Regions from separate parts of the Homo sapiens genome. Here region 2 is linked to region 1. Evidence: fine-mapped expression QTL. A gene starts in region 1. The other region holds a variant in brackets. All regions are shown on one strand. Distances are between the middles of the regions.

The links. PIP is the estimated chance that this variant, and not a neighbour inherited with it, causes the effect.
Region 2: its variant is fine-mapped to the expression of TGFA in tibial nerve (GTEx, PIP above 0.99).

Annotation. Positions count from the first base shown.
Region 1 is chr2:70,552,603-70,555,102 of GRCh38, forward strand. It overlaps TGFA (transforming growth factor alpha), which reads right to left and starts at 1,224. Exons shown (of 6, transcript NM_003236.4): 1 at 1,126-1,224. The coding sequence starts at 1,165. LOC124907824 (a long non-coding RNA gene) reads left to right here and starts at 106. Exons shown (of 2, transcript XR_007086906.1): 1 at 106-790. RefSeq lists a silencer at 1,285-1,354.
Region 2 is chr2:70,356,488-70,359,501 of GRCh38, forward strand. No RefSeq gene overlaps it. Among named protein-coding and RNA genes, the nearest start is that of FAM136A, 56 kb to the left of the region's middle. The variant G/C (reference allele first, on the strand shown) is at 1,414.

The sequences.
Region 1 (2,500 bases):
CCTCCCCTTCTGCTGCGGTTTTTAATCAGCGTTTCTAGGGCAGGCTTGCAGGCGGGGCCGCGAACCCCCTGTAGTTGTACACGGAGCTGGGTGAGGCTGCGGCTCTGGGCATTTCTGGGGAGGAGTTCCATGGCTTTCCACAGACTCTAACCACCCTGCAGCGAGCCGCATGCTATACGGGTTAAACTCGGGGCATATCGAACGAACAATTCACTTCACGGAAGACTAGCAATAACCAGGACACCTGCGCTATTGATCAGCTATCTCAACACCAGAGAGACCCACCAGCACAAGGGGCAAGAATTGGCCAGGAGGCGCGCGGCGCTGCGCCCTCACCGCGTCCAGACAGACCCTTGAACTTCACCGCCAAAAAACGCACCGCTCCGCAGACCCGACCCGGGAGAGGGGTTTAACTTCCCCTCACCTTTCCCATCCCTCCTTCATTTCCAAGGACATACTCAAAGGAAACTGGCAACACTCGGTCTAGGGTTTCGCTCCTGCCCTCGGCGGACACCGAAACCACTTCTCCCAGGGAAGTTAATTAAAGGAACCATTAATCCGCCCAAAAATCCAAAACCTACCCCCAAAGCTCAAGAGCTCTGAAAAGAGATCGAGGGCGCCTCTGCCGATCTTGAACATCTCTGCTCGTCGCTGGGGCTTAGAGGTGGGCAGGGGGTGCCAAAGGGGCGCAGGCAAGACCCGGCCAGAGGGTTAGACGCCGGCCCCCGTTCCGAGGCGGCCCAGTCTACACGCCAGCGACGCCGGCTGAGCCGGGCTTGGAGGCAGCCAGGTAAGCAGGTAGGTGTAGGCATGTGTCTGAGCAGACACACAGCTGCGGCGGATTAAAGTTCAAGCCCGTTCACACTCCGCTTCCCCTTCCCAGGTGTTCTCACGCACGGCCCAGGCAGCCACTTTCCCGGGGAAGCCTCGGCGCTCGACCGGACAGTCCCCTCTTTGTCATTCTTAATGACTCCCCTTGCCTCCCAGGCGCCAACCCATTGAGACTACTCGCTTCTCTCCACTCTCCCAGGCGGGCGCAGAAACCCCCGGAAAGGGGAACTCGGCGGGGACCGGGGGAAGCAGGGTGTCGCGCGGCGCAGGGGGCGCCGCAGCCGGCGTACGTACCCAGAGCGAACAGGGCGAGCTGTCCAGCCGAGGGGACCATTTTACGGGCGGGCGGGCAGCAGGCTCTCCAGCCTCCTGCCCTACCTGCGGTGCCCGAGTGGCGGAGCGGCGCCGCGGTGCGGGGGAAAAAGACGCAGACTAGGCAGGGCCTGCCCCCGGCGCGGGAGGGCGGAGGGAGGACCGAGCGCCTCTCTGCTGGCACTCGCCCCGCAGCGCTGCCCGCCGGGCGGAAATAGGAAGGCGGCTACCGTCACCTCCTCGCCACTCGGCGACCGGGGCACAGCTGACCCCCCCCTCCCGCCCCGATGGGGGTGCCCCCCTGAGGGCACAGAGGGTGGGGGTTTGGGGTAAGGGGCGGGGACGCTGAGCGCACCGAGCAGGGCGCGGGCTGCTGGGCGGGGCGACCTGGGATCCCAGAGCCTGGCGGCGCGAGCCGGGCACCCGGGCCGACGAAAAGGCAGGAAGCGCCTGACTTCAGACACCACCCCCGACTGCCAGCGCCGTGCGGCAGCGGACTCCAGCGTGCGGGGTCGGCGCCGGCCGCGTAGCCGGATTGTCCTGGGCCGCAGTGGCGGCTTCCAGGCTCTAGGCGGCGGAGCGGAGCCGCCCGGGCACCCGTTACCTACACCGAGGGGCCGCTCCTGGGGCATCTCTGGGGCGGGGAAGGCTGGAGGCTGGGGACGCAGCCAGGAAAGGGACCTGTGAGTTTCGCCGGCCGCTTGCCAAGACTTGGCTCAAGGAAAGTGGTCCCCTGAATCAATGAAGAATTTGTTAAACCAGGTTTCCCACCTGTGCCACAGTTCCCATCAATTCTGGCAACGCCTGCCGCCTTACCTCCCAGGCAGGCCACATCGTTAAGATCAGTCTTCGTACTTCTGGCCTGGGACTGATAAAAAATGGGTCTCTGTGACGAATCTGGTTATATGGCACCACCAGCTGAGGCCAAAAGCCTGCTAGCCTGCCACCAAGTGTACCCCGAAAGAGGGGTGTGTGGGCCCGAGTCACCTGGGTGGTCCTTTCAGGATTTGTGGCTCTGAGGTGGCCCCTGGTGCTGGAATTTGGGGAGGTGGAGGGGATAGAGGGAAGACATTCTGGGCGAAGAGTGGAAGATCCATAGGTTCCTCGGTGACCCTCATGGGGACAGTACACCCGGGAGATTCATGTTCTCCAGGTACCCGGAGCTCACGGACTGACCCTCTTCTCCTGCCTCCTCTGGCCTACGTGCTCCGGGTAGATCCACTTTCCTTGAAGGTGGGGGTGGGGGCTGTTGGGCCTGGGGAATCTTTTGCTGTTTACTTGGGGAGGCTCAGGCTCTCACGGTTGACCTCTGCCCAGTTTGTTTCATGTAAGTAGAGCAACCTAGTTTCAAGAAGGA
Region 2 (3,014 bases), 200 kb before region 1:
CAGCTGTGGACTAATTAGGGCTCTTTGAATTACAAGTGTCAGATGTTCAACTCAAAACCAATCTTTCCCTGGATTTCACACACACATGCTGGAAGAGAGAAGCTCTGTCTTTCCTCTGGGGTTACTTGCTACATAGAGGAAGTCATCCATCAAAGAGAGAATGAGACCAATCTACAGAGAGAAGCAGGACTGAGGGAAGGAGTTAGAGAGCCCTAATGACTTTGAGTCTTTGGAGCCAATCATGCTCAAGGCGAACTCCAACCCTGCCACAAAGAGCTAATGAATCCCCTTTTTTTCATTAATATTAGTTTTGAGTTGAGCATCTGACACTTGTAATCCAAAGAGCCCTTATTAGTCCACAGCTGACTATACCAACTTTGACTATCTTCCACACCTGACACTTCTCCAGGGAATGTGTGATCTTACTATGGATGGAACCCCTAATGATTCTGATCTCCAACAGTGTACTCACACAATGTTACTACAGTGACCACCAAAGTAAGAATAGCTAACATCTTCCAATCAAAATCTTATCAAAAGCACTGTGCTAAGTGCTTTGTATGCATTGTTTCCTTTACTCACCACAAAAGCCCTACACAGCATTATTTATTTCCACTTCCCTACTTTTAATTTGAAGAACCTAAGGTTTGGAGAACTTGAGAAATTGTTCATGGTTCCACCACCAGTAGGTGTTGGAGAGAATGTTTAAAGCCAGGCAGTCTGACTCTCTGGAACATGTGCCGTTGACCTTACATTGTTATTACTTCCTTCCTAGACTTAACCTCTCAAGAACAGCACAGCCAAGAAGGGTCAATCTGAATTCCAAGGTGCTATTTATCTACTAGTTGGGCAGCCAGTATTATGAGATAGTGAATGATGCTGAGGGCACATTTTGCACTAGGATTATAGAGCGAACCCTTTCAACAATGCAAAAAGATAGAAATGAGTGTTCTAGTTTAACTTTCTAGATTAAGAAACTGGGATGGTTAAGTGACATGCTCATGGTTACGCTGCCCCAAGTGCTAAAGTTGGGAAAGGCTCCCGGAAATGTGTGACTTCATCCCCAAGAGGACTGAAAAGAAAGTGTTCTGACCTTGAAAGGTATACAGAAATCAAAGGATTCAGGTCGATGGGGTGAAAGGTTTGTTTTAGTAAAAAATGTCTTATCCTTGTTTGATCGGTTATTTTATTCTAGGGAGGAGGCCTTGTCTAGTTTTCCTTTTTATGGAAAGGTCAGCCGGTGGGTCAGGAAGCTGGGGAATGTGTGCCTTGTCATGAATTCAGGCTTCCTGATTCATGGGGTGAAATTTCGCTTTCTTATTGCCTCTCGGAGAAGGATGAGCTCATTGGTGGTGACAAGAGCAGCCTTCTGTCCTTCCTGCTCCAAATGCTGAAAGAAGTGGGATGTGAGCT[G/C]TCAAATGTCACAGAAGCCTACAAAACGCTGACTCCCGGATGCCAGGCATAACTGGGGTTGGCTCAGAACATGGGGACAGGGCAATACCATCATCTGCTAAGAATTCATTGTTCTGTAGCTTGCCCTGGACACAATGGCAAGACTGAGACAGGAGGAATAGATGTGGGGCGGGGTGGGGGCAGACAAACTGGGTGTGTCTTTGCAAACATAGCCTTTTTGGGGGTGGGGAGAGATAGGATCAATCAAGAGGCAGACTGTATGTGGGTTTAGGGCACCAAGAAACAGGGACATGAAAAATCCTGACAAAACAAGGCAAAGCATAACAAAACAAATGCCCAAACAAAGAAAGGGAGGGGGAGCATTTGTTTGGAAAGGTTTTGACATTTACTGCTTTAAAAAAAGCATTGAAACAGTCATAGGAAAATTCATAACTTTGTTTAGTATTTTGAATCACAAAGGGTGGGTGATTCAAATGACTTTGTAGAGACAAGGTGCTATTTAGATGAGAAGTTCTCTGGATTGGATGGTCCCAGACTCTCCTGTGGGCAGAAGGGCAGCTGACAGCCTGATTGGGTATACTTTGAGTGACGCTGAGCAGACCCCGACTCCAAAAAACACTGGAAGGAAGAGTTCCAGAGTTAGGAATTGAGGTGGGATTGGAGGTTATTTTATTTACTTCTTTGTTCTTTGCATGTTTTCCAAATTTTGTGTGTATGTGTGTATACACACACACACATACACATATGTTTTTTGAGACAGGATCTTGCTCTGTTACCCAGGCTAGAGTGCAGTGGCACAATCACTACTCACTGCAGCCTTGACTTCCTGGGCTCAAGCAATCCTTTTCCTACCTCAGCCTCCTGAGTAGCTGGGACTGCAGGTATGTGCTATCACACCTGGCTAATTTTTTATTTTACATAGAGACTGGGTCTTGCTTATTTTACATAGAGGCTGGTCTTGAACTCCTGGGGTCAAGCAATCTTCCCGCTTCAGCATCCCAAAGTGCTGGGATCACAGGCATGAGCCACTATACCTGGCCTTGCACACATATTTTTAAAACCTTAATTGTATTAATGTAAAATTATACAATTAACATGTTATTACAGTCCTTTTATACAAAATTACTATTCCATGGTAAGAGTAAACTGTCCCCCTGACCATCACTTCTTTCCTATATATTCACATTCATATATAGAAACACATGAATGAGAATCAGATTGCTTTGTGTGAATGGCTTAAAAAAAACCCAGAAATGACATTGGACTGTACATTTCTTTTTTATTTTATTTTTTTTATTATATACTTTAAGTTTTAGGGTACATGTGCACAATGTGCAGGTTAGTTACATATGTATACATGTGACATGCTGGTGCGCTGCACCCACTAACTCGTCATCTAGCATTAGGTATATCTCCCAATGCTATCCCTCCCCCCTCCCCCCACCCCATAACAGTCCCCAGAGTGTGATGTTCCCCTTCCTGTGTCCATGTGTTCTCATTGTTCAATTCCCATCTATGAGTGAGAATATGCAGTGTTTGGTTTTTTGTTCTTGTGATAGTTTACTGAGAATGATGATTTCCAATTTCATCCATGTCCCTAC